Homo sapiens: one gene and its partners. The protein of the gene in region 1 purifies or fractionates together with the protein of each later gene. This does not show direct contact. Each region holds a gene or a part of one and is shown in the gene's direction. Other genes may lie near its edges.

Region 1 (3,654 bases):
TTCTTGTAACTTCCCAGGCTGCAGAACATTGGCTAAGTACACCTCTTTTCCTTATCAATTACCTAGCCTCAGGTGTTCTGTTATAGAAACATTAAATGGACCAAGATTGTATAAATTTCAGACCCCAGAATACCTGAATCCATTCCTGTCTCTAAGGGATTTTCAACAGCACAAGACAAATTTATAATTTTGAAAACTTTCACTTTGGTGTATCCAGTTCATGGGCTATAATACTGTTATATCCCTTGCGTTTAGAATAGGATAAACAATGAGATATTATTTTAAAAGAGAAGTCTGTCATTACAGCTAAGTTCAAGACTTATTATAAATAAATAATAATTTTAAAACATCAAATTATACTCAATATATGTTGTGGTTCTGCTTTAATTGTGATGGAATGAAACTGCTGTCACCATGTAGATTACCGAGTATAGATACCGTCTATCTTCCTTATTATGTGTCTAGAAAGCTAGATTTCAAGTCTTTCAATAAATATTTTGGGAAACCTTTCTCCCCAGACTCCAATTCCTTCTCTTTTCCCCACCATCACTTTGTTACATTGGTCTGATTTATGGCAGGTAAGGAAACAAAGCGTGAATCTTCCCTTTGACTATTACACCATCCTGTGGCCTCAGGCTGAGTCAACCACTCTGCCTCTTGCCTCACTACCTTTTTTCATGGGATTCCCTCCCCCTCTCCCAACCCCTAATTACAGGGCTCCATATATAGTCCTCAATAAAAGTTCCCGTCAATTTTCAATAAAGAGATTAATCATGTATGTTGGGTAGGCAACACCTGAGATGAAAAGTGGTAGCAACTTCTCAGAAGCAGCCACATTACTCAACAGCAAGCTGATGAGAAGTGGAGAAAAACCACAAACAGCCAAAACCACAGAGCATTAAGGATGTGGAGAGTGAGTATTCAAAAATGGAAGTCAGTCCACACACCAGAAAGAACATTTTGCCAAGTATTAAAAAAAAGGTTAAAACCCTTATGTTAGTGATACAGAAAGCGTCAGGGATGTTTATCTTCCAGCAAGACAGCACTTTAGGTAATGCTGTGGTTTCTATGTGTCCCCCAAAAGTTCATGTGTTGGAAACCTGATCCCCAGTGCAGCAATGTTGAGAGGTGGGACTTTGGGGAGATGATTGGGTCATGAGGATTCTGCCCCCATGAATGGATTCATCCATTGATGGATTAACGAATTAATGTGTTATTGAGGAAGTGGGCTAGTTATCAAAAAAGTTGGTCTGTTTTATATATATTTTATATTTTATATATATATGTATATATATGTATATGCCATCTCTCTTGAATCCCTGTGAAGTCCTCTGTCACCTTAAGTCTCTGCAGAGAGTCCCCACCAGCAAGAAGGCCCTCACCAGATGTGGCTCTTATGGCTCTTAGACATTAGACTTCCTAGCCTCCAAAACTGTAAGAAATAAATTCCTTTTCTTTATAAATTACCCAGTCTCGGGTATTCAGTTATAGCAACAGAAAATGGACTGAAACAGTTAATAAGAAGGAATTTTTTTAAAGATTCTGAAGAGGAGCCATAAGCTATCATGGTGGTATTGCTACTAGAATCAGGTATAAAAAATTATTAGTCTGAAAATACTGAAGACTCCTTGAGTGGAGAAAAGAAACTCAGATCTTTGCCTTTTCCCTGCTACAGATATGGACAGAGACAATGGAAAAATAAAGAAGACTGTTGGGGTACTCAAGAACTCTCTTGTGACCTTACCAGTGAAACCTCAGACATACAGGAACCTTATTACGGGAGGGTGAGGGCGGCCTCGGCTGGGAGCTACTCAGAATGGAGCATGACGCCGCGGTTCACTCCCTGGTGGGAAAGTGAGTTCCATGGAGTTTCTTTGCCCTTGTTCTTCCTGCTTTTGGACAGCCCTCCCGGAGCACGGCTAGTGACTAGGCCTTGTGCTTTGCTGAGGTCTCTACATCATTATCTCTTTTGGTCTAATTGTCAGAACAACTCTAGGAGATAGCTTTTATTATCCTAATTTTCTAGTCCAGAACATCAAGATGTAGAGGCTTTAGTCATTGCTCCAATCTCGCAATCTGTATTATCCAAGTCAGGGTTCAAATTTGCTATATCTGACTGCAGAGCCTCCACTCCATCAATTTGTCACCTTGTGTGTGTGTGTGTGTGTGTGTGTTTGTGTGTGACAGGGTCTCGCTTTGTCACCCAGGCTGGAGTGCAGTGGCACGATCTTGGCTCACTGCAACCTCTGCATCCCGGGTTCAAGCGATTCTCCGGCCTCTGCCTCCCGAGTAGCTAGGATTACAAGTGTGTGCCACCACCCTTGGCTAATTTTTGTATTTTTAGTAGAGACGGGGTTTCATCATATTGGCCAGGCTGGTTTCAAACTCCTGACCTCAGGTGATCTGCCCCCTTTGGCCTCCCAAAGTGCTGGGATTATGGGTGTGAGCCACCATGCCCAGCCCCTAAAAAAGTATTTTTAGACAGCAGAATTTGTCATAGTGCCTAGTCCTTCCCCAAACACGAGGGTTAAGTTCATGAAAATACTGATTACAGGAATTTTCTGTTGAGGAAATTAAGACTTTTAGTCACCTCCCCAAAAAGGCAGACCAAAAGTGCTTTCTCAGTATCCATCCTGAAGGATATTTATTCCTTTTTTAGTTTAGTCACAACCATAGAATAATATAATCTAAGACATAGGTGTTAAAATTAACCATTACCAACAGACATTGGATAAAATAGTAGAGAGAGAGAGAGAAGGGGTTTAATGTATAGATATAAAGATGTGCATAAATAGAACAAGAAAAAAAAAAGATATTTACCACAGTCCTCATAATTGCAACAAGTCAACTAGTCATGAAGCTGTAGTTAATATTTATGACTTCTTCCTTCATTATAAACTCAACATTCACTTTCTTTCCAGCCAGCACTTCAGCTCTTTATCCACGAGGAGTTTGAGTCCTTTTGGTGTTTCCTGTCTCCGCTTGACCTAACCTTACATTAATTTTTATCACTGAATAGAGAAGCTCTAAGAGGCACACCAGAGGATACCAAGAATTCTTCCACCTGACCCCATTGTATTTATAACTATATTATGCCTTGAAAATCAGAATGAATCACCCTAGACAATATAAGAACCTCATTTTCTTTTTGTTAGTTAAATGGCATGAGGCGCTCCAAATGGTCAGGAGAGAGCCTCGACTTCCAATTTTTGGAAACCATTTTTGTTATAAACCAGAAGAATTCAAGGCCAAGCATATGGGAAACAAAAACATGTCATAAGTTGTTCACTATGGGTAACAGTCAGAGTTGCCCCTCCCACTTCTACTTCTTGTATCCTAGACCAGTGAATTCTGTCTGTGGAAGAAATAGCACCATATATTGGCCCTAGGCTTAGTGAAGCATTTACCAATTGGAGCATTTACCAATTCATATGCCAATTCACAAGACGTCTCTCAAACTGAGTTTTCAATTATCCATTTCACCTTCCTATAAAGTCATGGATTTCTGAGCGACAAATATATGATATATATTTGTCCTATGGGTCTTGAGACCTTGCTTCACTCCTTTCACATTAACTTAAGTTCTTTGTCATAAGCAATGTATTGTGGAGTACTATGCTCATGAACAAGGCATTGACTACATCTATGGGTGTA
Region 2 (3,654 bases), on another chromosome or scaffold:
CAGTTTCAAGCAATTCTGGTGCCTCGGCCTCCCAGGTAGCTGGGATTACAGGTGCAAGCCAGCACACTTGGCTAATTTTGTATTTTTAGTAGAGATGGGGTTTCACCATGTTGGCCAGGCTGGTCTCAAACTCCTGACCTCAAGTGATCCACCCGCCTCAGTCTCCCAAAGTGCTGGGATTACGGGCGTGAGCCACTGTGGCCTGCCTCAGTGATTATTTTTTAATTGAACTAATAGTATTCCTGGTATTTTCAGTCATTGACAGCCAAAAATGCCTTGTCCCCAGTTTCTGGAGCTCCCCTCCTTCCTCCTCCTGCCATGGCTTGAGGTTGAGGCCTAGTAGGAGGCTGGTGGGGGTGGAGGGGAGTGGTAGAAATGAAGGCTGGAGAAAACAGGGCCGGCACACCAAGTGCCAAGCAACTCAGTGAGGGTTTCCTCCCCTTCCCTCTCTTCAGTAATTATTTTACCCTCCCTTGTTTTATCCTCAGCTATCTGCTAATCATGTTCCACTTGCTGAAAGGCAGTCAGGTGTAGAGCTCAGGAGTACAGCCTCTTAGGAAGGATGTGACCTTGGACTTTGAATGGGGTTACTGATGGTACTTAGTTTATACTGAGAGTATTAAATGAATTGATATGTGCTAGCTATTAATAACTTCATTTCTACCCCAAGTCGAAAGCCTTCCATGAGTGGAACTGGATCTTACTCATCTTTATGTTCAGTACACCCAGCACAGGATGCTTGGCTGTTGCGAGATGCAGCCAGCATTTTCTGGAGCCCTCCCACTTCCCCTTCCCCAGTACCTCAGGCCCCTGTGTCTCACCCATCTCATTTTCTTCTTGTCTCCACATGTGCTGGTCCTAAGCTATTTGGGCAAGTTTATATAAAGGTTGATACTGCTTTCTCTTCCCTGCTGATAAACTCCTGGAATCAGAAGCCAGTTTTCATTGCTTTCTTTTTTTTCCTTTTTGTCTTTTATTGAGACAGGGTTTCGCCCTTTTACCTAGGCTGGAGTGCCGAGGTGTGATCTCAGCTCACTGCAACCTCTGCCTCCTGGGCTCAAGTGATCCTCTCACTTCAGCCTCCTGAGTAGCTGGGACTACAGGCATGCACCACCACACCCAGCTAATTTTTGTATTTTTCACAGAGACAGGGTTTCACTGTGTTGTCCAAGCTGATCTCAAACTCCTGGGCTCAAGTGATCTGCCCGCCTCAGCCTCCCAAATTGCTGGGATTACAGGCATGAGCCACCGCGCCCAGACAGTTTTCATTTCATTTCATATATTTCTTTTACATGGTAGATGCTCAATGAATATTTGCTAGATGAATAAAGTGGTAGAATAAAGCAGAATAAAGTCACTTGAAATTATGTGTAGACTAGAGAAATATTTTTTTCCAGGTAGTATGTCTCTGACTTGTTATTTTAAAATCCTTCAAAAAATAAATTGGGGCATCTACTGGTTCATTATGGTACATGTTAAATTTACTTTTTAAATTTTACTTTATTTTTTATTTTTAGACAGTCTTACTCTGTTACCTAGGCTGGAGTGCAGTGGTGTGATCAGGGCTCACTGCAGCCTCAACCTCCTGGGCTCAGGTGATCCTCCCACATCAGCCTCCCAGGGAGGTGGGACTATAGGTGCATGCCACCATGCCTGGCTAATTTTTACATTTTCTGTAGAGTCAGGGTTTCACCATGTTGCCCTGGCTAGTCTCGAATTCCTGGGCTCAAGTGATCCACCTGCGTTGGCCTCCTAAAGTACTGGGATTACAGGAGTGAGCCACTGTACCCGGCCAAATTTTCATGTTTTAAAATAATTGCCTGTCTTCACGGTTACACCCTACTTCCTTCTTCTTCATTTCTCAGAATCAAGGAGAAAAGACAAGTATTTTATTTTGAAATATGTGACAAAGTTGTCTTAATCACATCCTGTTTTGTTATTTTGAAGCATGACTCTTAGCCCTTCTATGTTGTACTCTGTGTATTTCTAACATCCTGAAGGAGGAGAATGGAAATGTTACTTACATGAAAAATAGTTGTCACTAAAGGATCCTAAAATACTGTGGGGTGTGCAGATCGTCAGAATTTCAGATTGGCCTAGAGATCAAAAAGGTTTTCTGAGAAAAGTTCAAGGATGGTCCTTACCACACGTGATTCTGGATTTGGTCGCTTGAAAAATGGCCTTGCCCCACATCCCAGAGTAGAATGAACCCTGATTCTGGAGATCCCCCCAATAGCTTGTCAGGAAGAGGTGGGCTTAGGGGCAGGCGGGTGTGGCTCTGTGCTTCAGGCAGGCTGCTGTGCCTTCCTGAGCAGGGTTTTCAGCAGATTCACTAGTGCAGTCAGCAGAGTCCCTGCCTGCCCATACAGGAGACAGTCACCTAGCCCCCTGTCCCCTTATACAAAGATCTCCCTGTCTCTGTGTATAACCCTTTGTACTTATGTTTTCTATATCAGCCTTTCTGAAATGTTCAGGTGTGAGCTCACCTGGGCCCCACTCTAGGGGAATTGATGGGAAGGAACATTTGACAGTCATGAAAGGAGGAAGCAGTCAGGTATAGGCCATCTGTGTGTTTGGAGCCTGGGTGTCTGCTGTTGATGAGTGCCAGATAGAAATAGGGATTTGATAAAATGATAGATAAAATAGGATGGGACCATCTCAACCTTGTTTTTCTTGTCTGTGGTGTGTTACGTGGGATTCAGAGATATATAAGACGTGGTCATGGCCTCCAGAAATTTTTGTTCTGGAGGTAAAGTTATTACATTAATTATGTATACCAGTGTTAAAATATAGATAAGGTGTAACAAGCATCGTGTGGGGAGAGAATGGACAATGTCTGTGAGGGGGGTGCATCCCTTATTTAACAGTTATTTCCAAATCCGTGGCAGCTGAGACCTTGCCTCTCTTGTGTCTTTTTCTTTTCTCATGAGTTAGAATGAGGAGGAGACATGACCACGGGGTTCAGGGCAGAAAGTCAGACTCAGAAGGAAGAAAAAGAAGTCCCCAATTGCTCTGACATCAGCATCCCATGTCTGCCTCTGTTTCCTGTAAGGGAGCCCACCCATCTCTAGGACTCAGAAGGCATACATTGTTGAAGGAGCTACGTTTGAGGCTGGCTCTAAGGGACTTCGACAGGCTTGAGGGACTCATCTAGACCTGGGGCATTTGTTTTGTAAGGAAGGTTTTATTGGAACACAGACACACTCACTCATTTGTGTGCTATCTGTAGTTGCTTTCACATGTCTACGGTGGACTTGAGAAGTAGCAGAAATCATGCAGCCTGCAAAACCACATGTATTTATTATCTGGCCTTTTATGAAGAAAAGTTTGCTGATGCTTGCTCTAGACCAGCATGTGCCACGAGCACATTTTCTAGCAGATAAACAGATGTCTTATCTTGTCACTCCTATTGGATATCGTGCTGGAGAAGTGGTAGCTAGTGTAACAAAAACAAAAACAAATTGAAGGTATGCAGATTGGAAAGGTTATCTCTGGGAGGTAGGATTAGAGGTTGTTTTTCCTTCTATTTCTGTTCATATTTCCTATGGTAAACATAGTAGTTTTAAAATAAATTCAAGTTTATACATCGAATGAACTTGATTAGAGGAGCAACTGGCTATACTCCCTACTCCTTGTATGGGTAGATCAAACATT
Region 3 (3,654 bases), on another chromosome or scaffold:
TTCTTGAATTATATATCCTACACAAAAAGGTGGTAGAAGACTTGGTTCTCATTCTGTTTCTCAGCATAAATGATTCTTTTTTTTTTTTTGGAGACAGAGCCCTGCTCTGTTGCCCAGGCTGGAGTGCAGTGGTATGATCTCGGCTCACTGTAACCTCTGCCTCCCGGGTTCAAGCGATTCTCCTGCCTCACCCTCCTGAGTAGCTCGGATTTCAGGCACATGCCATCATGCCCAGCTTATTTTTGTATTTTTAAAAGACAGGGTTTCACCATATTGGCCAGGCTGGTCTCAAACTCCTGACTTCAGGTGATCTGCCCGCCTCAGCCTCCCAAACTGCTGGGATTACAGGCATGAGCCACCAAAACACCTGGCCTAAATGATTTCTAATCACTTGTTTGGTTTATACAGTTTGACTGCTTATTATACTAAGAGGACAAGTCATATAACTAACACAGTTGTCTAAAAAAAATTTTTTTGATTCAGAATTCTAAGCAGTTTACTAACTCAACTTATTTCATAGACATGTAATGGCAAAGGTCTGGTTTCTAAAACTACAGCTATTTTTCATGCCTCAGGATGCATGAAACTGTTTTTGTTTCATATAGTCCTTCTATTTTGTATCTTTTGCAAGTGTTTGACTCATGAGACCTTCTATTATAGGATGGGATCCAAGAAGAGAAACTGGAACCTTTATCCAGCTTGCCTACGGGAGATGAGCCGTGTCTGCACACCTACCACAGGCCGAGCTGTACTACTTACTCAAGACACAAAATGCTTTACCAAGGTGCTATACACATTAGCTCAAAATCGCAGCCTGTGGCAACTTTGGGATCTTTTTGAGATTTGGGGATGTTTGTTTGGATAAGATTTGTTTTCTCTTCCCCTGAGGTTTCCTATCTTGGCAGTTAAGAATCCTAGTTGATGTAAAAGTAGATTGTCAACCTAATTGTTATTTTTTTTGTGTGTACACAGGCGTTATCTGGAATGCGACACGTATGGCGAAAGGTGGATACAGTCTGGGTGAACGTTGGTGGTCTTCGTGCTGCAGTTTACGTTCTGATACGTACACCTCAAGCTTTTGTTCATCCTTCAGAACAAGACGGAGAAAGAGGAACTCTTTGGCAATGCAAAGAATGAAGATGACTAATAGTACTTGTACTTCCCACCACTGGAAATGTTAGCATAAAAGAACTTGGAGAGGAAAAAAGTATTAACAAAACTGCAGTCTGCACTCTTTAAACCTGTTTAAGGCTCTTCATCCTGGTTAGCAAAAGGTGTGAATGTAATGTGATGGAATTTAAAAGTTTTATGAGACCAGGCACAGTGGCTCACGACTGTAATTCCAGCAGTTTAGGAAGCCGAAGTGTGCAGATCACCTGAGGTCCGGAGACCAGCCTGGCCAACATGGTGAAACCCTGTCTCTACTAGAAATACAAAAATTAGCCAGGTGTGGTGGCGGGCGCCTGTAATCCCAACTACTCAGGAGGCTGAGGCTAGAGAATCACTTGAACCCAGCAGGCGGAGGTTGCGGTGAGTCGAGATCACGCCATTGCACTCCAGCCTGTGCGACAAGAGCGAAACTCTGTCTCAAAAAGATTTTATAAGAAAGCAGAGCTTTTCCTTGAAGCTCTTTTGAAGTGGTAGCTTAATTAGTATTTTGTTGAAAATACTTTAAAGATGCCTAGTGAAAAGCCTACTAAAGTGCTGTGAGATTGGGGTTTAGAACATTTTATTTTCAGGCTTTATGGCCTATTTTCCATTGTGTCAAGTGCAAAACTACCCTGGCCCAAAGGAAGGGCAGAGAACATAATTACATCTTAGGCCACATTTCATTCTTTGCAGCTTTGCTAATCCAGTTGCTCAAGTTCTTTACCTCAACCTGAAGGAATGAAGCATTATTACATTTTGTGAATGGTGTTCAGCCTATAAGACGAAGTCTCACAAGACCTATAGGAAAGTTTACCATCTGCCTTAAATATTAAAATATCCATCTGTTATTCACATTAATACACAGAATGAAAATAGAGGTCTAGGAATTATCAAAGGTACTGCAAAAATACTGTATAGAACTTATTTGTAAATAGCACATACATTGATAGATGGGGTGTGGGACCAACAAACCAAATTAAAAGAAATTGTTTTTCTTTCAGTACACTAAGGTGTGTGTTTTCAAAACCAAACACAAACCTGTCAAGAGTATTTGTTGGCTAGTTTCTTAAAAGGCCAAGAGAAAAAAAATGATATATCTTTGGAAAACTTTTAATTTGGGAGTTATGTGAGTTGTTACTTTCTCCTGGATCACGATTCACATTTAATTGCTTTTCCAGTTGCAACAAGTCCTTCTTGAGAGTTTTGTGGAAAATGGTGCTTCCCTGGAACAAAGAGTAGTTGAGGTTTTTTTGTGGAACTCATCATAGTATTGTTTATTTTGGAGCCTCTGGCTGCAATCAGTATAGATTTTCAGTATCCTATTAGTATTATAATAGTACTCCTCTTAATACTTTCTGATGTCTCCATTGAGAATAAAAGGACACAATACTTTTGAAAGAAGAGTTCACATTAGCAGCACAGCCAGCAATCCTCATCTGGTTTCTCTGATCTCCTACCCCACACTTCATAATGAATGGGAAATAAGATGTTTATGAAGGTTTTATATCCTAGACTGGCCTTTTTACCACTATCAGAATTCACAGCTGCTTTGTTTATGGGCCGAACACAAAACTTTTCACCTGATGGGAGAAACCATTTAAACCTCAAATTAAGCAACCCACAGAACCAGGAAGTTCAAGGACCATGTCTGTTTTCACCACGATGTCTTTCCCCACCCCCCCACCCCCCACTCCACCCCCCACTAAGGGCAGGGTATTGTATCTGCCAGACTGGGTATTTGTTGAACAAGCGAGTATTTTCGCCTATTAGCTTAGTTTTTAAGGAAATCATTTTTTACTTGATTCATCATAGCTTTAATTCTATTACATACTACAATAAAAATTTGACAAGACTGATACAAATATGTAGTGGGCAATAGTTTGCCGTCTTCTTCCCTAGTATGGTGTTTTTCAATCTGGTGACTAGAATAGGCAGTGGGCTATAAGCAGGATTCATAAGGCCTGGAGCTGAGTTATATGTGACACTGCCACCTATTCATTGTGTGACCTTGGTTTTAACCTTCAAAGTGGGTCTCCTGGACTAAAAGAATGTGAAAAGATGGGGAAATAAATCTGTAATCTGAACATGGAATGACTTAGTTACAGACCAGACATATTGTTACTGGGAATGAAAAAGTCAATATATTTGAGGGGAAAAAAATGTAAATAAATATTGAGAAAGATTTTACAAATCTAATTAGGGGAAGATAGTTATCTCCCAATACTAGAGGGTACCAGAGTGCTTTTAAGGGGAACATTTGGTTACCCTTATTTCTTTAAAAAATGGCAGTTTAGGAAATTCTGCCCTAACTGTAGTCCCAATGTCAGATAGGACTCAGGTCTCCACTGCAAGGACCAAAATGTTAAGTTGAAGACTGAAAATGGGAAAATTTGGAAATGTCTTTGGAACCTCAAGTACATAAAAGCCTGTAAGTGCTTCATACTCATTAACAACATAGGCATAGAAAAAAGATATCCTTATTCTCAAGCATAGCCTTTTCTAATA

Evidence for each region.
Region 2: the proteins of IL22RA2 (region 1) and UPP1 purify together in Homo sapiens (co-immunoprecipitation; one large-scale study listed by IntAct). This does not show direct contact.
Region 3: the proteins of IL22RA2 (region 1) and THUMPD3 purify together in Homo sapiens (co-immunoprecipitation; one large-scale study listed by IntAct). This does not show direct contact.

The regions. Positions count from the first base shown.
Region 1 is NC_000006.12:137,153,141-137,156,794, reverse strand, and holds part of IL22RA2 (interleukin-22 receptor subunit alpha-2 isoform 1 precursor), read left to right. Parts: coding exon 1-36; intron 37-1,675; coding exon 1,676-1,854; intron 1,855-3,654. UniProt on the Homo sapiens protein: Isoform 2 is a receptor for IL22. Binds to IL22, prevents interaction with the functional IL-22R complex and blocks the activity of IL22 (in vitro). May play an important role as an IL22 antagonist in the regulation of inflammatory responses.
Region 2 is NC_000007.14:48,095,740-48,099,393, forward strand, and holds part of UPP1 (uridine phosphorylase 1), read left to right. Parts: intron 1-3,654. UniProt on the Homo sapiens protein: Catalyzes the reversible phosphorylytic cleavage of uridine to uracil and ribose-1-phosphate which can then be utilized as carbon and energy sources or in the rescue of pyrimidine bases for nucleotide synthesis.
Region 3 is NC_000003.12:9,383,552-9,387,205, forward strand, and holds the end of THUMPD3 (tRNA (guanine(6)-N(2))-methyltransferase THUMP3), read left to right. Parts: intron 1-660; coding exon 661-784; intron 785-972; coding exon 973-1,137; coding exon of another isoform or gene 1,138-1,181; 3' UTR 1,182-3,240; downstream 3,241-3,654. UniProt on the Homo sapiens protein: Catalytic subunit of the THUMPD3-TRM112 methyltransferase complex, that specifically mediates the S-adenosyl-L-methionine-dependent N(2)-methylation of guanosine nucleotide at position 6 (m2G6) in tRNAs.